Linked DNA regions of Homo sapiens. The protein of the gene in region 3 purifies or fractionates together with the protein of the main gene of each other region. This does not show direct contact. Each region holds a gene or a part of one and is shown on either strand. Other genes may lie near its edges.

What was found.
Region 1: the proteins of POMK (region 3) and LRP6 purify together in Homo sapiens (affinity purification with mass spectrometry; 5 studies listed by BioGRID and IntAct, with this or other methods). This does not show direct contact.
Region 2: the proteins of POMK (region 3) and CANX purify together in Homo sapiens (affinity purification with mass spectrometry; 5 studies listed by BioGRID and IntAct, with this or other methods). This does not show direct contact.

What each region holds. Positions count from the first base shown.
Region 1 is NC_000012.12:12,264,040-12,271,730, reverse strand, and holds the start of LRP6 (low-density lipoprotein receptor-related protein 6 isoform b precursor), read left to right. Parts: upstream 1-4,686; 5' UTR 4,687-4,995; coding exon 4,996-5,050; intron 5,051-7,691. UniProt on the Homo sapiens protein: Component of the Wnt-Fzd-LRP5-LRP6 complex that triggers beta-catenin signaling through inducing aggregation of receptor-ligand complexes into ribosome-sized signalosomes.
Region 2 is NC_000005.10:179,701,950-179,708,971, forward strand, and holds part of CANX (calnexin isoform d precursor), read left to right. Parts: intron 1-3,729; coding exon of another isoform or gene 3,730-3,732; coding exon 3,733-3,903; intron 3,904-4,308; coding exon 4,309-4,382; intron 4,383-5,182; coding exon 5,183-5,241; intron 5,242-6,289; coding exon 6,290-6,431; intron 6,432-7,022. UniProt on the Homo sapiens protein: Calcium-binding protein that interacts with newly synthesized monoglucosylated glycoproteins in the endoplasmic reticulum. It may act in assisting protein assembly and/or in the retention within the ER of unassembled protein subunits.
Region 3 is NC_000008.11:43,096,501-43,103,522, forward strand, and holds part of POMK (protein O-mannose kinase), read left to right. Parts: intron 1-1,023; 5' UTR 1,024-1,115; intron 1,116-6,004; 5' UTR 6,005-6,100; intron 6,101-7,022. UniProt on the Homo sapiens protein: Protein O-mannose kinase that specifically mediates phosphorylation at the 6-position of an O-mannose of the trisaccharide (N-acetylgalactosamine (GalNAc)-beta-1,3-N-acetylglucosamine (GlcNAc)-beta-1,4-mannose) to generate phosphorylated O-mannosyl trisaccharide (N-acetylgalactosamine-beta-1,3-N-acetylglucosamine-beta-1,4-(phosphate-6-)mannose).

The DNA.
Region 1 (7,691 bases), on a different chromosome or scaffold from region 3:
CACCACCATGCCCGGCTAATTTTCTGTATTTTTAGTAGAGACGGGGTTTCACCGTGTTAGCCAGGATGGTCTGGGCCTCCTGACCTCGTGATCCGCCCACCTCGGCCTCCCAAAGTGCTGGGATTACAGGCGTGAGCCACCGCGCCCGGCCTTTTTTTTTTTTTTTTTTTTTTTCAGACAGAGTCGCACTCTGTTACCCAGGCTGGGTGGCAATGGCGTGATCTTGGCTCACTGCAACCTCCGCCTCCCGGGTTCAAGCAATTCTCCTGTCTCAGCCTCCTGAGTAGCTCGGATTACAGGCACGTGTTACCATGCCTGGCTAATTTTTCTGTTTTTAGTAGAGATGGGGTTTCACCATGTTAGCCGTGCCGGTTTCGGACTCCCGGCCTCAGATGATCCATCCACCTCGGCCTCCTAGAGTGCTGGGATTACAGGCGTGAGCCACCGCGCCCGGCCTCCACCTGGATGTTTCATAGACACCTCCAATACAAAAGAGCCATTGTTAAACTTATTACCCACTCCTTCTTGAAATACTTCTTAGGTTTTCTTTTCTTTGTAAAGGAGACTCCCATTACTCTCTGTTTCTCTCTCAATTCACAACTAAAAGTCCTGTTTTAATCTCGTATTCTTTAAATCCATGATGTCTTTTCAGTCCTCAGCGCTGCTGTCCTGATTGCCCCTTTCATAGACTTCTGTACAATGTGCAAAATTCTTCAATGTCCGCATTGTTAATATGCTAAAATCTAAACTTCTTAGCATGGCTTGAAAAGGTTTTTATTAATCAATAGCTATTTAATGGTCCTGCCTCAATTCCTGACATTCTCTAAAAGCATTCCATGCATCAGCTATATGAATCTACTTTCAAATCCCCAACATACTAAGTTCTCTAATGATTCAGTGTCTTTAAACCTACTATTGTGATTGAAATTTTTTTTCAGTCTTGTTGGCCTGGCAAAGTCTGATTTGTATTTCCAACCTCAGCGCTAGGGTTATTTTCCCTTCTTTTGTTTTGTTTTGTTTTGTTTTTTTGAGACAGAGTTTCACTCTGTTGCCCAGTCTGGAGTTCAGGGGCGCAATCTCGGCTCACTGCAACCTTCGCCTCCTGGGTTCAAGTGATTCCTGTGCCTCAGCCTCGTGAGTAGCTGGGATTAAAGTTGTGAGCCACTGCGCCTGGCCCTTTTTTCCCTTCTTTGAATTGTCTAGGCAGAAAAGCATCTCTACACTTAGCAATTTTGTCTTTTTTTTTTTTTTAGTTGGAGACAGGGTCTCACTGTATTGCCCAGGCTGGAGTGCAGTGGCAAGATCACAGCTCACTGCAGCATTGGCCTCCTAGGCTCAAGTGATCCTCCAACCTTAGCCTCCCGAATAGCTAGGACTCCAGGTACACGCCACCATGTCTAGCTAATTTTTGTATTTTTTGTAGAGATGGGGTTTCGCCATGTTGCCCAGGCTGGTCTCGAGCTCCTGGGCTCAAGTGATCTGCCCACTTTGACTTCCCAAAGTGCTGGGATTACAGTTGTATGCCACTGTGCCCTGCAGATTTTAATATTTTAATTACTCACTTTATTAATCAGTGTTTCCAAACTAGGCTGTAAGCTTCTTGAGGGTAGGGACTATGATTACTCTCATCTTTATATCCCCAACACTTAACAGAGTGATTGGTATCTGATTGGCACTTAAAAGAATGAGAAACAAAATTAGTTATGCAGTAATAATGGCATTCTCTCTAGGGCTTAAGCTTAACCTATAGATTTTCACTTAAGCATCTTTTAAAAATTTGTAGTAAATATATAGTACATTAAACAAAATTGAAGAACAGAAAAGCAAACTACATCTCATATTATTTCACCATCCTAATGCCTATTTTAGTGCACTTACTTTTGGTCTTTGCTCAAATATGTGCTATATATATGTGTGTGCATTTATGTTTGTATATTATATATATTTTTATTTTACATAGCTATAATCAAATGTACATGCACTTTCACTTTTTAAAAGCTTAACTCGGCCGGGCGCGGTGGCTTACGCCTGTAATCCCAGCCCTTTGGGAGGCCAAGGAGAGCGGATCACTTGAGGTCGGTAGTTCGAGACCAGCCTGACCAACATGGAGAAAGCCCGTCTCTACTAAAGATACAAAATTAGCTGGGTGTGGTGGCGCATGCCTGTAATCCCAGCTACTCAGGAGGATGAGGCAGGACAATCACTTGAACCTGGGAGGAGGAAGTTGTGGTGAGCCGGGATTGTGCCATTTTACTCCAGTCCAGGCAGCAAGAGCACAACTCCGTCTCAAAAAAAAAAAAAAAAAAAAAAAAAGCTTAACTCACTATAAACATTCAACACTGTTGCATAATCCTCTAAATTATTATTTTTCAGCAGTGTGTAATATCTCATTCCCCTACTTAGGTTGATAGTCTGAGGAGATTTAGGTTGTACCGCATTTTCTTTTTTATTTTATTTTATTTTTTTCGAGACGGAGTCTCGCTCTTTCGCCCAGGCTGGACTGCAGTGGCGCTATCTAGGCTCACTGCAAGCTCCGCCTCCCGGGTTCACGCCATTCTCCTGCTTCAGCCTCCTGAGTAGCTGGGATTACAGGCGCCCGCCACCGCGCCCGGCTAATTTTTTGTATTTTTAGTAGAGACGGGGTTTCACCGTGTTAGCCAAGATGGTCTCGATCTCCTGACCTCGTGATCCGCCTGCCTCGGCCTCCCAAAGTGCTGGGATTACAGCCGTGAGCCACCGTGCCCGGCCAGTTGTACCGCATTTTCTATTATAAATAGGGACAGATCCAGGCTTTGTGGGACTTGAAGCTTATACAATTTTGTATAATACAATTATACAGAAGAGGAATTCAAAATTATCTTTGTTTTGCAAATAGGACCATGTGAACATACCATAAAGGCCCCTCCCCAGACATTGGAAGGGGCCTGTGAAAGTGAAGGTTAACTTTCTTTTCTTTTTTTTTTTTTTTCTGAGACGCAATCTTGCTCTGTTGCCCAGGCTGGAGTGTAATGACGCGATATCGGCTCACTGCAACCTGCGCCTCCTGGATTCAAGCCATTCTCCTGCCTCTGCCTCCTGAGCAGCTGGGATGACAGGCGTGTGCCACCATGCCCGGCTAATTTTTTTTGTATTTTTAGTAGAGACGGGGGTTTCACCATGTTGGACCAGGCTGGTCTCGAACTCCTGACCTCGTGATCTGTCCGCCTCGGCCTCCCAAAGTGCTGGGATTACAGGCCTGAGCCACCCGCCCCCGGCCCAGTTTCCTGCTTTGAGGAAGCCAGAATACAAAACTCACTTGGTTCTTAGAAGCAGGTCATTTAAATAAACGGTGACTAGACCTCAGGTGAATTTGGGAGAAAGTGATTTGGCTGTTTCTGCTGTCCATCTACTTACAAACCTGCAGCACCTTTGGTTCAGCGCGCATTTCTTGGAAGGAGCGGAGTGGCTTAAGTCAGAGACCTGGATTGGGCTGAGGTACTGCTATTCATTACTTGAGTGGCCCTGGGTAAGTCATTAACCTCTCAGGTTCTCATTTTGCTCCTCTGTGCAATAAAGAATAAGTAACAAAACCTGCCTTTCCCCAGGGTAGTTTTGAGTGTCAAATATGATAACTTGTGTTCAAGCACTAGTGAACTCCAATGTCACTGAGGTACTTGTTAACATTGTGGTAGCAGCTCCACTTTCTTGCCCATCTGCCTCCAGGTAAGGGCGTGTGACAGCTGGGCAGGATGCATCTGATGGCTCCATTAGGGTTAACTGTTGGAGCGCCTCTGCCCAGACGAAAGCCTGGCAGGTGATTTCAGGGGGCGTCTGGGCCATTACTCCTGAATGCCCAATGCACTGGGAGTAGCAGAGGCTGTGCACAGTCTGAGATTCTAGGGAATCTTTTCCTTCTCAAGCTGAGAATTGATAATCGAAGCATGCCAAACATTCGTTATTATATGCAACTTGTAAAATCCTAAATAGTCTTGTCCAATTGTCCCTTTGCTCTTAGGTTTTGAGGCATTTATCTTGGAATTTTATCTGCCAGTTTAGAAATCTTTAGCTGGTCGGGCTTAATTCTGGGGGCAGTTTGTATTTCTGGGAAGGCGGGAGAAAAATGACAATCTCAGTTTTGAATTGGCGTTTTAATATCGTTCACCAGATCCACGCTGAAAGCCGGTGTAAACAGCGTTCAAAAATTCCGCCCTCCCAAAAAAAGGATGCTGAAACCGATTTCCAACCCCGAAGACGGAGCTCATCACCCCGCAACGGGATCCGCCGTGGCTCCCCGCGCGTGCACCGCGGCTGGGCAGTCTCAGGTGGCTGGGGGCGCGAGACCGGAGCCCCACCTGGCCCTGCCGGCGGCGGCCGCACAAAGAGCGGGGCAGACGGCTGCCCGGCCGAGCCGCAGAAAGTAGTCCCGACCACGCCGGCTCCAATGTTGTTCAACGCCGCCTCACGCCCTCCGCGGGGAGGGCCGAAGCGGCCGGTCCGGGAAAGAATCCCGCTGGAATGCGCCACCGGGAGGAGGCTTTCCCTCCCAGTTCGCCTCTGCTAGCCCAGAACCTCTCCCAGGGTCTCAGGCAGAGGCTGTGCGTGCGGTTGCCGACTCCCTTCCCTGGCCGTACAGGAGGCAGTACCGGGAGAAGGGGCTCGTTGCGCGCAGGGACACGGTCGCGGCGACCCTAGGAGGCGGTGCCGACCGTATCCCTGCGCCGCTGCGCGAGGCAGAGGCTGAATGAGGAGCTGCGCGGGGGAAGCGGGGCGCCGGGGGAGGAGGCGGCGGGATGGAAGCAGACGCTGGCGTCGCGCGAGCCCGGGGCCGAGCGGCGCGGTAGAGAGGGCGGCGGCGGCGCGCGCGGAACCTTGACGTGCCCCTTTCTTTCTTCTCTCGCTGGGAAGCTGGGAAGTATGAGCGTGCAGCCCTGCCGCTGCGGCGGCCGCCCCGGCTCCTCGCCTCCCCCACTTCTGGCCACCCCTCGCCGGTGAGAGAAGAGAACGCGAGAAGGGAAGATGGGGGCCGTCCTGAGGAGCCTCCTGGCCTGCAGCTTCTGTGTGCTCCTGAGAGGTGGGAAGAGTGGGGGCACTGGAAAGTTGGTGGGGTTCGGGGGGAGGTGGCCTTGTTGTATGTGTCTAGGGGGAGGGGAGGGACGGAGGAAGGGAGAAGGGGAGAGGAGCGGGGAGAGGCCTGGTCGTGGGGAGGGGGAGAGAAAGGGGCCCGGGAGCAGGGGCTGCGTGCACCGCCCGGCCACAATGCGGACCTGGCCTGGCTTCCCAGACCTTCCCCGGACACATCGGAGCTTCGATCCCGGCTGCTGGTCTTAGGGAACCCTTGGCACCCCATGCTGTCGGGATGACTGAGTGTCTGTGTGCCTCTCTCTGCCTGGGGTCTTCCAGGGAAAAGGGTCTTTGTACGTATTTTGGCTTTTAAAATGTTTGAGTCCGAGATGCTTTAAGGTTGGCCTTATCCATCGAAGCCCCGCCACCCACTCCCCACCCCGTTTCGGTGTTTCTTAGGTGAACTTTTAAAGCCCTCTTGCTATTTTTTCCAGGCCTTGTTACAGGTAATGATTGGCTTCCGTTTGGGATATAATGACCCTGGGTGAGAGCGCAGTTGGAAAGTGACTCCGGGGTTATAGGTCGAGCGTTTCAGCATTGGGAGCCTTCTGAGCTTCAGCCCATAATAAAATAAAACATTGCCCTTGTAACCTCTGGTATTCACGGCTTGCCCCTATTTTCGGAGTATGCAAGTGTACAGTTGGCACTAAGTAGGGAAATTCATCCTCGTGTGAAGAGGAGCCGGTCCTGGGACCAAAATGATAATTTGCTCTGCACCCCTGGGGACTGCTTGGCACTTTGGTAAATTGCATAGGCTGTTCGAGATAATTTGCTCTGGGAATCGCTTGAATTCGATGGCACTATGATGTTTTGAATTGGACTGCAAAGCTGACACATGCTCTGTGACTTTTGTGACAGTTCACAAAGATTTTTGACTGGCCCGTCGGCAGCTCTTCTCAAACTATTTAGTGTTGAACTTGAGATGGCTGTGATGGCTGTGGAGCATTTACCAGCAGAGGAATTTAAGTACTGCTCGATACGGTGGCTTGTAGTTTTGGTTTGGTAAAGTTCTTACTGGCGTTCATAGTAAGTTCTTTTCAGGCATGTGACCGCTGGTCGCTGGAGATTTTTAGGTGTTAACAAGCTAAACTTTTGTTAAGTTCTCCAAACTAATTTAAGTTTACAGAACACTAATAGTAACTAATAGTCTGTGACAGGTGTATATTTTTGCGTGTACTGTGTATATGTATTTCGGATGAGAATGATTGAGTTTTTTTTTGGAGGAGGAGAAATACTTTCTTCAGTTACTCTGTAGTAATGCAGCATTGTGTTTGCATGTTATATTACTTGATACTCTAAGCATATTACAAAGTTTTCCCACATGTAAACCCCGGAAAGGTAGTGTTCATTAGATTTTTGTGGCAGAAATTTTAATGAAGTGTTACGTACTGGAGAGGTTTCATAAGTATATACTTATTTTATTATTGGCATACTCTATTGAAAGGGGTTTTGCTGTAGCTGTTAGAAACAACTATATTTGACATAAGAATATGTATGTATTTTAAGACATAAGGTTAATAGGGCTGACAAATATGAGAACCAGCTGATTGGTTAGAGTCGTGGGAAAACTTATAACTTGGGATGTTTCTGGTTGTCTAGTTGTATTTCTTGGAGGAGAAGCGTGTGATGTAAATGCCGTTTGTTTAACACCAGCTTTGAGACCAGAGCTGGGTTTGTTCATTATTGGAATTTAGATAGGTTGCACTTATTTATGTAACAAGACCTGGAAGAGGTAATAGTTTAAATTGTCTCGTTTCCACTAGCAAAGTTTTCAGAAGTGGAGCTCTCGTTTTAAATGTGGCGAAATATGGTGTAAGGTGGTCTTCTAATATGTAACAGTACTGTACTTAGCTGTGAGTACATATTATTTGAAGTAAAACTGTCTTTTGATGTAAAATATTTTTGTTCATAATTTAGAATTAATTCATTCTTTGAGAATGTCATCCTCTGTTATAGTAAAGATATTTAGTCAACCTTGGACTCCAAGGAGAAAAATCTGATTGATTTGTTGCATTTAGGTCATTTTTTTCCCCCACAAAGAATTGGGGCTTTAACATTGGCTGGGTGTGATGGGGTATGTGAGAGTCTGGGAGACCTTCTGTCCTGTAGCCCTGTTGAATTAGTAGCAGAAAGCCAGGGAATACTGTTAGTGCTGTGTCCCTATCTCTATCATCACATGACAAGGTATAAAGGAAAGATTTGGGAATTTCAATACTAAAATCTTGGATTTAAAGCCCAAGTGTCACAACTTCATAACTTTGTGGTTCTGGTCTAGTCCGCTTCTCTAGGTCTCAGTTTCTTTACTGGTAGTGTGGATAATGATACCTGACTAGTTTGCAGGGTTATTGGGTGTTTTAAATGAAATAATATGGAGTACCTTGTTAATGTTACTTTTTGCTATAATTTTTGCTTGTTCAGGGACATATCCTCAAATGCTTTCATGATTTGAGATTTAATTTGTATAACGTTCACAATTTTTTTTTTTTTAAAGAGACAAAGTCTTGCTTCATCACTCAGTCTGGGGTGCAGTGGTGTAATCACAGCTCATTGCAGTCTCAAAGTCTTGGGCTTAAGTGATCCTCCTGCTTCAT
Region 2 (7,022 bases), on a different chromosome or scaffold from region 3:
AGGCTGGTTGCGAACTCCTGAGCTCAGGCAGTCCGCCCACCTCGGCCTCCCAAAGTGCTGGGATTACAGGTGTGAGCCACCGCGCTCAGCCTTACTTATTTTTTTAGAGACAGGGTCTTGCTCTTCATCAGGCTGGAGTGCAGTGGCGTGGTTATTGCTCACTGCAGTCTCAAACTCCTGCTGTTATTGGTTCAAGTGATCTTCCTGCCTCAGTCTCCTGAGTAGCTGGATCCACAGGCGGATGACGCTACACTCAGCTAATTTTTTTTTTTTTCCTAATTTTTCATAGATACTTCGCTTTGTTGCCCAGGCTGGTCTCGAACTCCTGAGCTCAAGCGATCATCCTGCTTCCTCCAACTCCCAGAGTTCTGGGATTACACGCGCGAGCCACGATGCCAACCAGGAGACCAGAAATTAAGCTCAGCTTTCTTTCTCTCCCTTCTTCCCTCCCTCCCTCCCTCCTTTCCTTCCTTCCTTCTTTTTTAAAACTTTGTGGTATCTGTTTGTGAATTGCTTATTTTACTTACCATATTGTCTTCAAAGTTCATCCATGTTATAGCCGGTGATGGGATTTCCTTCCTTTTTGAGATTGAATAGTATTCCATTGTATGCCTATGCCACATATGGTTTAATCATTCATCCATTGATGGACACTTGGGTTGCTTCTGACTGTTGGCTGTTGTGAGTAGTACTGCTATGAACACGGGTCTGCAAATATCTCTGAAACTCTGCCTTCTTTTTCTGTTTGTTTGTTTGTTTGTTTAAGGCAGTCTTACTCTGTTGCCCAGGCTTGAATGCAGTGGTGCCATTACAGCTCACTTTATTTTTTATTTTTTTGAGACAGTCTCACTCTTGTTGGCCAGGCTGCAGTGCAGTGGCGTGATTTCAACTCACACTGCAAACTCCACTTCCCGGGTTCAAGCTATTCTCCTGCCTCAGCCTCCTGAGTAACTGGGATTACAGGCATCTGCCACCACACCCAGCTAATTTTGTGTTTTTAGTAGAGACAGGGTTTCTCCGTGGTGGTCAGGCTGGTCTTGAACTCCCGAACTCAGGTGATCCACCTGCCTCGGCCTCCCAAAGTGCTGTGATTACAGGTGTGAGCCACCACGCCCAGCCTGCCCAGCTAATTTTTGTATTTTTAGTAGAGACAGGGTTTTGCCATGTTGGCCAGGCTGGTCTCGAATTCCTGACCTCAGATGATCTGCCTGCCTTGGACTCCCAATGTGCTGGGATTATTGGCGTGAGCCACCGCGCCTGGTGGAGTGGTGGAGTCTTTTTTTTTTTTTTGAGGTGGAGTCTCTGTGGCCCAGGCTGGAGTGCAGTGGCGCCATCTCGGGTCACTGCATCCTCCGCCTCCCAGGTTCAAGCGATTCTCCTCCCTCAGCCTCCTGAGTAGCTGCGGCTACAGGTGTGCGCCACCACACTCGGCTAATTTTTTGTATTTTAGTAGAAACGGAGTTTCATCATGTTTCCCTGGCTGGTCTCCTGAGCTCAGGCAGTCTACCAGCCTCCCAACGTGCTAGGATTACAGGCGTGAGCCACCCCACCCTGCCCAACGACTCACTTAGCTTCAACCTGTCAGACTCAGGCTTCTCCTACCTTAGCCTTCTTAGTATCTGGGACAACAGGTGTGTGCTACCATACCTGGCTAAATTTTTCTTTTTTTGATTTTTTGTAGAGACAGGATAATTTTTTTTTTTTTTTGTATAGACAGGGTCAGGCTATGTTTATGTTGGCCAGGCTGGGAAATAAGGTCTTAATAGAGGAAGTTGAAGATTCCTGGGGGAATAGCATGTAGAGCAGCTATAGAGGGAGAGGGTGCTGATTACTAGCTAAAAGACTTAGAAATTTTTGCAAACATGGACTCATGATAGTTTTTGGGTGATGAGTCTTCTTGTAGGATAGCTTGAAAGAGGAGGAGGAAACTAGAGGCCCTGGTAATATAAGGTAACATTAAGTATCCTGATGTCAGTAATGGAGAAGAGTGAAAGACTATGATTGATTGGGTGACTGTGTGGGCAGAGGATGTGAGGAGAAAAGGACATCTTGTGTGTGTGTGCGCACACATTTTTAGTTGTGTATCTTCTACTTGTTTTCTCCCCCACCTTGTACCTGTACTTTCTCAAGCCCAAAAATGAAAATTTACCTGCTACCAACCACATCATCTTGTGCATCTGTGTAGCTCAGTTTTTATTTCTTTAGATCTGTGGTCCTCCGTGGAAAGAGAGCCACTACCCCAAGACACATCTAATATAATACACAGGGCGCTTACGTGGTTAGAAAAGAAGAGATAAGCCGGGTGCGGTGGCTCACTCCTGTAATCCCAGCACTTTGGAAGGCCGAGGCGGGCAGATCACGACGTCAAGAGATTGAGACTATCCTGGCCAACACGGTGAAACCCTGTCTCTATTAAAAATAACAAAAATTAGCTGGATGTGGTGGTGCACACCTGTCATCCCACCTACTTGGGAGGCTGAGGTAGGAGAATCACTTGAACCCAGGAGGCGGAGGTTGCAGTGAGCCAAGATAGTGCCAATGCATCCCAGCCTGGCGATAGAGCAAGACTCATCTCAGGAAAAAAAAAAAAAAGGAGCTTGTTTTGGCCAGGTGCAGTGGCTCACGCCTGTAATCCCAGCACTTTGGGAGGCTGAGGCAGGTGGATCACCTGAGGTCAGGAGTTCGAGACCAGCCTGGCCAACATGGCGAAACCCTGTCTATACTAAAAGTACAAAAATTAGCCGGGCATGGTGGTGGGTGCCTGTAATCACAGCTACTCAAGAGGCTGAGGTGGGAGAATTACTTGAACCTGGGAGGCGGCGGTTGCAGTGAGCTGAGATGGTGCCACTGCACTCCAGCCTGGGCGACAGAGGGAGAATCCATCACAAAATAAATAAATAAAATATATAAATTTTAAAAAGTAGCTTGTTCTTAGTTTAATATTCTTTTTGAGTTCTAAAACGCTAATTTGAAAACATGTCTATTGATGATATTTGAGCAACCGTATCCATATTAAGCCTTAATATGAGAGGAATTATCTTCTGTGTTAATTTTTTTTTTTGAGACGAACTCTTGCTCTGTCACGCAGGCTAGAGTGTAGTGGCGTGCTCACTGCAACCTCCACCTCCTGGGTTCAAGCAGTTCTCCTGACTCAGCCTCCCAAGTAGCTGAGACTACAGGCGCCCGCTATCGCTCCCAGCTAATTTTTGTATTTTTAGTAGAGAAGAGTTTCGCCATGTTGGCCAGGCTGGTTGTGAACTCCTGACCTAGTGAGCCACCTGCCTCGGCCTCCCAAAGTGCTGGGATTACAGGCGTGAGCCACGGCGCCCGGCCATCTCTGTTATTTCATTGTAATGTTTTAACGGGTACCCCCTGTAAATTAGTGTATGAAAGGGCTTTTGTCTGTTGTAAAGCACTTTACAAATGCAAAAGTTTGTTGGAAATTGTATTTGAATGCCCCACATCTGTGTAACCAATCCTCTCTATATGAGGATGTTGTGTATGTTTCAGTTTTATTTTGAAATTTTCCAGAAATGGAATCTTTTAACTGATTTTAGGGAAACCCTTTAATCTCTCTAGGCTGCCTTTCTTTATCTATGAAATGAAATAGTAAGTTCTTTTTAGCTCTGCGATTTAAAAGCTTTAATTTTAAATGAGAGAGTGGTTAGTGATCTTCATGAAGTTTGATAGGTGGCAATACATTTAACTGATTTTGCTCTTTATGTGTAGATCATGGAAGGGAAGTGGTTGCTGTGTATGTTACTGGTGCTTGGAACTGCTATTGTTGAGGCTCATGATGGACATGATGATGATGTGATTGATATTGAGGATGACCTTGACGATGTCATTGAAGAGGTAGAAGACTCAAAACCAGATACCACTGCTCCTCCTTCATCTCCCAAGGTTTGAAATGGTCTTTGAATCTATTCCTTTTACGTCTTGAGATGATAAAATTATGAAGATACCCGGGTGCAGGGAAATGTAGTCTCAACTACTCAGGAGGCCTAGGACAGGAGTGTGAGTCCAGCCTTGGCAACACAGGGAGATATCATCTCTAATAAAATATAAAAGAAAAACATGGTGAAGATAAATTTGGAACGTTTTCAAAGGGAAAGCAAAATTCGTGAAAATACTTATTGATCTCTCTGGCAGCCTTTGTCTTGCTAGAGGCCAATTATATGGGTTGAATTTGAAGGCCAGCTATGAAATTTTTGTGACAGTTGAAAGCAAACCAGGAGAATAGATTCTAGATAAAAAGGCATGTTGCTGAAAATTTAAATTTTTAATTCATTTATGTATTTAACACAGGTTACTTACAAAGCTCCAGTTCCAACAGGGGAAGTATATTTTGCTGATTCTTTTGACAGAGGAACTCTGTCAGGGTAAGTGTTTTCCAGAGAAATATATGTTAGAGGCAGACATGTAAATAAGATGGGATAGTAGATTCCTTTTTGGATAGCATCTTTTATAGTGAAATGTCTAACTTTATTTTATTTTATTTATTTATTTTTTGAGACAGAATTTCGCTCTTTTGCCTGGGCTGGAGTGCAATGGCGTGATACCGGCTCATTGCCACCTCCGTCTCCTGGGTTCAAGTGATTCTCCTGCCTCAGCTTCCCAAGTAGCTGGGATTATAGGCATGCGCCACCATGCTGGCTAATTTGTGTGTGTGTGTTGTTATTTTTTTAGTAGAGATGGGGTTTTGACATGTTGGCCAGGCTGGTCTTGAACTCCTGACCTCAGGTGGTCCACTTGCCTTAGCCTCCCAAATTGTTGGCATTACAGGCATGAGCCACCGCACCTGGCCTGAAATTTCTAGCTTTAATATCTTCAGTGTTAACATCCATGCAGGAAAATAGTCTTTTGGAATTTGTGGTTTTTACTTCCACTTCTTTCCCTCCCCCACTCTACCCTATATTTTGTTCTTTGATTGAGGAAAAAAATTTTCTCTTGATGTTAAAACATCAGTGGAATTATCTCATAGGTTTGGTACTTTTTCATATAGGTTTGTGAGTTGAAGATAATGTATTATCATTAGTTGTGTGACAGATTTAAAGGTTGGAAGTAGAGTGGTTAAATAGGCTAAGAGCAGAATAGGTCCTACTTTAATGAGTATTTACATAATTTTCCCTCACAAGTCAACTGTCATTTTAAGACTGATTTTGGGATTTGTTATTTACAGGTGGATTTTATCCAAAGCCAAGAAAGACGATACCGATGATGAAATTGCCAAATATGATGGTGAGAATCCCATTTGGTTTAGATATAATAGCAGATAGAGGTTTGACATGTTGTCTCCATGGCATTTCCTAAGACTAGTTTAAAAGGACATAGTAGGCTTTAAGATTTTTCCAGCCAGGTGCGGTGGCTCACGCCTGTAATCCCAGCACTTTCGGAAGCCAAGGCGGGCAGATCACGAGGTCAGGAGATCGAGACCATCCTGGCTAACACAGTGAAACCCCGTCTCTACTGAAAATACAAAAAATTAGCTGGGCGTGGCAGCGTGCATCTGTAGTCCCAGCTGCTGGGGAGGCTGAGGCAGGAGAATGGTGTGAACCCGGGAGGCCAAGCTTGCAGTGAGCCGAGAACGCGCCACTGCACTCCAGCCTGGGTGACAGAGCGAGACTCCGTCTCAAAAAAAAAAAAAAAAAAAAGATTTTTCCATGGAAGTTTTGCCACCTTTGTGTGTTGCCTAATTTTTTTTTTTTTTTTTTTTTTATTTAAGGTTCAGGGGTGCATGTGTAGCCTTATATTTAATAGGATTAGATCTGTTTAATCACCTGTGCTACTGAATGTTGGAAATTTCTAGACAGTAGTATAATACACTACAGTTTTAAAAAGCCATATCTGAATAATATTTGCCAAATAAAGTGTGTTTATTTATTATTTATTTACTTTTTTGAGACGGAGTCTCATTCTTGCCACCCAGGCTTCTGGAATAGAGTGGCGTGATCTTGGCTCACCGCAACCTCTGTTTCTTGGGTTCAAGCGATTCTCCTGCCTCAGCCTACCGAGTAGTTGGGATTACAGGTGCCCATCACCACGCCCGGCTAATTTTTGTGTTTTTATTAGAGATGGGGTTTCACCATGTTGGCCAGGCTGGTCTCGAACTCCTGACCTTGAGTGATCCGCCTGCCCTCAGCCTCCCTAAGTGCTGGGATTATAGGTGTGAGCGACCACGGCTGCCCCAGTATAATATATTTATGCAACTAGGAGGTGTTTTTTTTGGCATTTAAAGGACCTTCAGAGGTAGAGTTAAGCAGTGGAACTTTTTTGTGTTGTCTTGTAGGAAAGTGGGAGGTAGAGGAAATGAAGGAGTCAAAGCTTCCAGGTGATAAAGGACTTGTGTTGATGTCTCGGGCCAAGCATCATGCCATCTCTGCTAAACTGAACAAGCCCTTCCTGTTTGACACCAAGCCTCTCATTGTTCAGTAAGTGAAATGCTTGTTGGATAAAAGCTTTCTGCAAAGGGTAATCTTAGAAGACATTATGTAACTTTTACTCTATGTTAAAAAATTATGAGATTATATAAGTGGTGGTAGGGATTTTTGGGTGAATTTAAACACCTTGTAATTAATAGTTTTTCCTGGCTAATGCATTATTTTGAAAGAAACTGGTTACTTATTTTCCTGACTCTAAATAACTTGTAGATTTTGCAGAACAAATTTACCGGAAATCTGCATTAATAGTTTTTGTAATTAATTAATTACAAAACTAGTAATTAATAGTTTTTCCTGCCTAATGCATTATTTTGAAAGAAACTGGTTACTCATTTTCCTGACTCTAAATAACTTGTAGATTTTGCAGAACAAATTTACTGGAAATCTGCATTAATGTTCAATTTAATTTTATTTATTTTTGTGGCATTTGATAACTATTCAAAAACAATAGAAGATGGAATCCTTTGTAAGGGTAAACATTTGACCTATGATAAAACGTGACTAAGATGAGGGAGAGAGGAAATACATTAAGAGAGTTTCGATCTTTCAAAATGCCATACAGTTTTCTGCTTTTCTCTCTGA
Region 3 (7,022 bases):
ATACTAAAATTAGCTGGGCATGGTGGCACGTGCCTGTAATCCCAGCTCTGTAATCCCAGCTACTCAGGAGGCTGAGGCAGGAGAATCCCTTTAACAAGGGAGTCAGAGGTTGCAGTGAGCTGAGATTGTGCTATAGCACTCCAGCCTGGTGACAGAGTGAGACTCCTTCTCAAAAAAAGAAAAAAGAAAAAAAAGAAAGCTCTCCCTGCATGTATCAGAGAAACTTCCATGTATGCCTGGGGAGATGTATACACAGCTTGTCTCACTAATTGTGGAAAAGTCAAACCAGTTGAAAATAGTGAACTGAGTTTTGTGCATCTGCATGGATAAATCTCAGAAATGTAATGTTGAGCTTTTAAAAAAAACTGGTTGCAGGAGGATAATACCAGCCCATCACTGTTTGTATAAAGCTTGAAAACATATGTATGATTTATGGGCACATACTTGTGAAAATAAGCATGTATGAGAAGCGGAGTTTGGTAACCCATCCCTGTAGTCAGTCCCAGCTGCTTGGGAGGTGGAGGCAGGAGGATCACTTGAGTCTAGCCTGGGCAACATAGTGAGACTCCATGTCTTAAGTAGATAGATAAGTAGGTAGGTAAATAGATAAGATCGATTAGATAGATAGACAGCATGTATAGGAATTATATACACCAGTGGTTTTCAGACTTTAGCATGCATCCAAATCACCTAGAGGATTTATTAAAACACAGATGTTCATTTCTGATTCAGTAGGTTTGGAGTGTGGACCCAAGAATTTGCATTTCTCCCAGGTTCCTGGGCTATGACGCCACAGGTCTGGGGAGCACAGTTTGAGAATCTCTGATGTCCACCAACTTGAAGATAGTGATCACTTCTTGAGGGGGAGTAGAATTGGATGGGGAGGAGTCCAGAGGGTCTTCAACTCTATTTGTAATATTTAATTTCTTTAAAAAAAGATCTGAAAAAATGATGCAGTGTGACTTGACAAAGCTGGATGAATGCTTATGATTTTTTTTTTCTCTGTGTGTGAAACACTTAAAGAAAAAGGATCCTGTTTGCTGTGTAATCCTGAGAATGGACTGCAAGAGAGGAAAAACTGGGCGTCTGCTTGGGAATCTATTGTGGAAACCCAGGTGAGAGGTGCTGCTGGCTCACGCAGCGGGGTGGAGGGGAAGGGCAGCAAGGAAGGAGATATGCAAGCAGTTGTGAGGGAGGTTTTGGTGGGAGCATTGACTGCATGTGGTAATCGGTTGGTTTAGAGTTTAGGGGAGGGAGGAATCAAGTCACACACACCTGGTCTGTAACTTGAGTGGGTGGTTGGGTCATGAGCCCATGACAGAGGGAACCCTGGAGGAGGGGCCTGTGGGGACTGGGGAGTTCTGCAGTGGACATCCCATACCTTGATAGGCCAGTGAGCAAAGCATAGGAGAGACCTGGGCTGCAGTGCAGACTTAGAAAGCAGCAGAGTTCAGATGGCTGCTAGTGTCCCAGGTGTGGGTGAGGTTACCTGGGTCTTTGGCAGACCTGGAGGAATGCCATCACCTAAGGCAGGGCTTGGCCAACCACAGCTTCTGCTTGTTTTTGCGTAGCCTGAGAGCTGGGAATGCTTTTATCTTTTTAAATGTTAGGGGGAGACTTCAAGGAAGATATAATTCACAAACCATAACATTTGACATTTTAAAGTGTACAATTCAGTGATATTTAGCATATTTACAAGGTTGTACAATCATCATCACTGTCTAATTCAGGAACATTTTAGCCAAAAAGAGACCCCATCCCTGTCAGCAGCTATTCCACCCCCTGCCTCCCCAGCCTCTGGGAGCCACAAATCTATGTTCTGTGTCTGAATTTGCTGTTTCTGGACATTTCATGTAAATGGAATCTTACAGCATGTGGCCTTTTTGTCAGGCTTATTTCACTGAGCATGATGTTTCCAGGGTTCACCCATGTTGCAGCATGAATTAGTGCTTTATTTTTTATGGCTGAATAATATTCCATTTATGGATGTACCACATTTTGTCTATCCATTCATCTGCCAATGGACACTTGGCTTGTTTCCACTGTTTGGCAGTTGTGGATAATGCTTCCGTGAACATTCATGTATGAGTGTGTGTGTGAGTGTGTGTGTTTTCATAGGTACATACTGGGCAGTGGAGTTGCTGGGTCGTGTGGTGACTGTGCTTAACCTTTTGAGGAGCGGCCAGACTGCTTTCCACAGTGGCTGCATTTTACTTTCTCACCAGTGATGTTTGAGGATTTCAGTTTTTCCACATTCCCCTATGTTGTTACTGATTTTTGTATTATAGCCATCCTCATGGGTGTAAAATGCCATCTTGTCACACTTCTGATCTGCGTTTGCCTTGATGACTGGTGAAGCTGAGCATCTTTCATGTATGTGCCTGTTGGCCATCTGTGTATCTACTTTGGAGAAATGTCTGTTCAAGTCCTTTGCCCATTTTAAAAATTTTATTTGTTTATTTTTTTGAGACAGGGTCTCACTGTCACTCAGGCTGGAGTGTTGTGGCACGATCACAGCTCACTGCAGCCTTGGTCTCCTGGACTCAAATGATCCTCCCACCTCAGCCTCCTGAGTAGCTGGGCCTATAGGCACAGGCCAACATGCCTGGCTAATTTTTAAATTTAGTTTTTGTAGACAGGAGGTCTTACTATGTTACCCTGGCTGGTCTGGAACTCCTAGGCTCAAGCGATCCTCCCACCTTGGCCTCCCAAAGTGCCGGGATTACAAGTGTGAGCCACCAATGCCTGACCCTTTGCACATTTTTAAATTGAGTTGTTTTTTTTGAATCTTTTGAGTTGTTCACCAGACATCCACATGGAGATGTCAAGGAAGCAAGCCTTGGGTTCTGAGGAGAGGCTGGGAATGGAGTTTTACCTTTGGAAGTTGTCAGCAGGCAGCGATGAAAAGTCCTGAGTCTGGGTGAGCTCTCCCAGGGAGTGTGGCAGAGGCCTGAGCTCTGAACTCTGGGGGACCCCACTACGTGGACTCAGAGATGAGGAGCTGCCAGAATGTAGTTTCCTGGAAACCAATTATATAAGGCGTTTAAGGAGGGAGTTATCAATCACGGTAGATGCTATTGATAGATCAAGGAAGACTGGGGCTGTGCTTTGACTGTTGTGTTTAGTGATGTGGAGGCCACCTGTGCTGACTGTGATAAGGTCAGTTTGGGTGCAGTGGCAGTGAGTTGGAGAGAATGAGAGGACAGAGCTGGGCGTGGGGTTTGCCTGAGCTGGGCTCGGGGCCAGTTTCATGGTAACACACTGTTTGTAGTAATAGGAGAGTGCAGGAACCTGGGGTGGGGCTTGGGAACTGGTGGAAATGCTCTCTGATTGCTTCTGTTTTTCTAGTAAAATAGGATGATCTCGTTAGATGATCAGCTGAGAGTGAAGGTGGGGGAACAGGTGGTACATGTTTGGAGAAGGAGAGTGTGAGCTTCCAGCTAGCCTAAGGCCACTCGGGACACACCTATCACTTTTATTGACTCACTGCAATAAGCGAGGCTGCATACTGGCGGGACTTGCATATCTTCATCAGAGGGACAGAGAGTCATCTGAGAGGGCACAGGGCAGGAGTCCTTCGGGGCCTCTCTGACCTGGCCCGGGGCAGGGAGCTGGGGATGGAAGTGCCATGAGTGCAAATAGGGAGCAGGGGGTCAGAGGAACAGAGGATATGGGAATGGGTGGTGGAGCCGGGAGAGACTGGAGCTTTGCCAATGGGGGCCTGGGCTGAGCAGGGCTCAGAGCATGTGGTGATGAGCCTTATGGCAGGTGAGGCTCAAGGCCCAGTGTGTGCTTAGGGAAGTGGGCAGCAGAGCGGGTGAGGGACCCGTGGGTGTATCACAGGGGTAGGGTGTTGAGGAAGTTCCAAAGCAAGCTAATAGGGGTTATGGCTGGAGAGAGGCCCAGTGTGTGTGCTAATGGGGGATAGTGTGGTAGAGGCACCAGGGTGTGTGCTAATAGGCCTCTGAGGCCTCGTGTGTGGTGATGGGGGTGTGTATGGTGTTAGTGCTGTGTGTGTGTCTGTGGGGGCCTGCAGGGTAGGAGAGAATGGGGTGCTTATGGAGGGGAGGTGGTTGAAGGACTCAAGTGCTGGGTGTGCGCTTGTGGGGGTTGTGCCGTGGTGGGTGTGTGCATGCGCTAATAAAGGTCTGGGTAGTTGGAGCCCAGTGCATGCTAATGGAACAGAGCTGGAGGGACCTCATGGAGGGATCTGATGGAGGGAGGACGGTGGGAGACCTGAGCCTGTGCTAGCGGGGATGAGGATTGTGGATCTCTGTGAGGTAGGGGGTGGTGGTGGTGCGGGAAGGGTCTTGGTACCGTCAGAGGCCCGGTGCGCTAAGGGTCAAGTTGGTGTGAGGTGCACGTGTGTCCCTGAGCACGAGGACACTCTAGGAAGGGGCAGCCGGATGGTTTAAGGCGTTCTAGAGGCTGCTACTGTGGGTTTAGAGCCATAGAGGCACTGAAGTGTGTGCCATTGCTGGGAGAGTCAGCAGTGTGAGGTCTGGAGTACGCTCAAGAGCGCCAGAACAGTATGAGCTTGTGTGCTTGCATCTGTGGGGTACTGGAATGTGTTGAGGTTCCAGGGAATACTGATGCAGGGGATGAGTAGAGCCGTGGAGGGGATAAAAATAAATTTAAAAGGCCAGGTGCAGTGGCTCATGCCTGTAATCCCAGCAATTTGGGAGGCTGACGCAGGAGGATTGCTTGAGGCCAGGAGTTCAAGGCCAGCCTGAGCAACATCGTGAGACCCAGTCTCTACAAAAAAAAATACAAAAATTAGCTGGATGTGGTGATGCGCACCTGTAGTCCCAGCTACTAAGGAGGCAGAGGTGACAGGATTGCTTGAGTTTGAGGCTGCATTGAGCTATGATTGCACCACTGCACTCCAGCCCGAGTGACAGAGTCAGACCCTATGTCAAAAAAAAAAAAAAAAAAAAGGAAGAAAATCATAGAATTTTGGAGATGAGTAAAGTTTAGGCAAATTTAAATGAAGTAGTGTTTTGATGGGCTCAAAGCCATGTAGAACTGAGTGTAAAGGGGCCAAGATCTAGTCTGGACTGCAAAGTGGTCCTCTTTCCTTGGAGACTACCAGGTTAACATAGATGTGCAGGATTATCTCCAGAAACTCCTTATCTGAAGGTCTGCCCTGTTTGGGAACTGAGGTTGCTTCTGTGTGTCAGAGTGACTTTGATCCTCCAGGAAAGCATGGGATGTTTTATCCCAACTGATAAGACTTCAAACTGCAAAATTTCTGGTAGTCTGTGATTGTAGAGAACAGAATTTCTAGGTAGTAAAAAAGGAGTCTTCATCCAAAGGGGGTTTTTGACACTTTATGGCTGCAGTGTGTTCTAAGGAGAAATGCCGTTTCCTGTTAACTTTGTGGTTTCATTGACGTCTTGTCCCAGCTCTGTATATGGGAGTGGATTTTGTTTTCTCAAGGAGGAGGTAGGAACAAGCTTCCTGTCCTGGATTTTTCATGGCTGGCTCCTCTCAGGCCTCTAGTCACAGTGTGAAGGTCACCTCCTTAGAGAGGTCTCCTGGGATGCTTCCTCCAGGGAGTTCCTACACAGTTACTCTCTATCTTTGAACCCCCATCACAGGATGATGATAGACCTATTTGTTTACTTGTTTATTGTCTGTCTTCCCCACTAGACTTTTCCCCTAAGCTCCAGCAGGATAGGAACCATGCTGGTGTAATTCACTGTGTGTGAATGTCTCCAGCACCCACTGCAGGGCTGGGCACATAGAAGCTGCTCAGGACATGTTGCGGGAATGAGCAGCTGGAAGTCAGTGATGGAGAAGAAGAGAGCAGACTGGGACAGAGAGACTCTGATGGGCTTCCCCACGGCCCTGCTCTGTCCTGGGGCTTGAGAACCTGAGGAAACCTGGACTTGAGGCAGGAGGAGGGCCCTGGGAAAGTTGGACCGTTTGGACTATGGCGATTTGTCTGGGTACATAGCTGCAGTTTCTGTTTACACACTTCCTGTTTGGTACTTTGTGGCAGGGTGTTTCCCGACCAGTCCCTGGGCGCCAACTAGAGTATGGACTGACCAGGTACCTGGATGGAGACCTGAGCTGGAGAAGGAGATGCGCTTGGGAGGTAACCCTGCATGTCACAGCTGTCTCTGACCCAGTTCTGTCCCAGTGCCCCAGCATTCCAGTGCTGTTTAGCTGGCTCCCACTGGCATGGCCACATCCACTGTTAAAGTCTCCATATACTTCCATTCTGCTCCATTCTGCTTCTGTAAATCACCTCTGCCATCCACGGTCCTACTTCAGGCTTCTCCGCAGCCAGGCCCCTCCACCATGGCCTTGCACGGCTCCAGCGGTAGAGCCCACACATTATCAGTGGTTACTTATCGCTGGTGTGACATCTGAGTGGTCATCTCTCCAATCTCATCGCTGTTATTCTAGCTCATGTACTTGTCAGCTCCTGTCCGTGGTCATAACCAGGGCTTCTTAATAACTGGTCTCCCAGCCTCAGTCTCTTTCACCCCAAATCTACCTTTCATAACTGCTGAAGAGTAGCTTTTATTTCTTAAAACTGTTGAGGGGATTCTGAGTACCTCCCAGGGAACAGGACAGCTGCTTAGCTGAGTTCGACAGAGGCCCTCAGCTTCCCAGCCTCCACCTGCTACCCTAAGCAGCCTCCTTCTGCTGTCCTTTGTCCACCCTCTGTCCCTGTCCCACCAGTTGACTAATACATTTTGCTTTCATTTTACTGAATATTCATGAGCATCTATTTAATGCATGCTACTGTGAGTCGGACAGAGTCAGACACAAACACCTCCCACCTAACCTAATCTAGAGGAACCCGCATTTTAGTTTGTAATAAAAAGTAATGATTATGGAAACAGCTAACATTGGGCATTTGGGATAAGCCTGGTGTTCGATACCTGCTTTAATCCCCACGGTAACGCTGCAGCTTACAGGACCCTTGAGTAGAAGAGGCATCAGAACACATTTTTGGAAATGAAAGGAAGTGAAAGCTGACTGTCATGACTTCTTGTTTCATTGTGTAT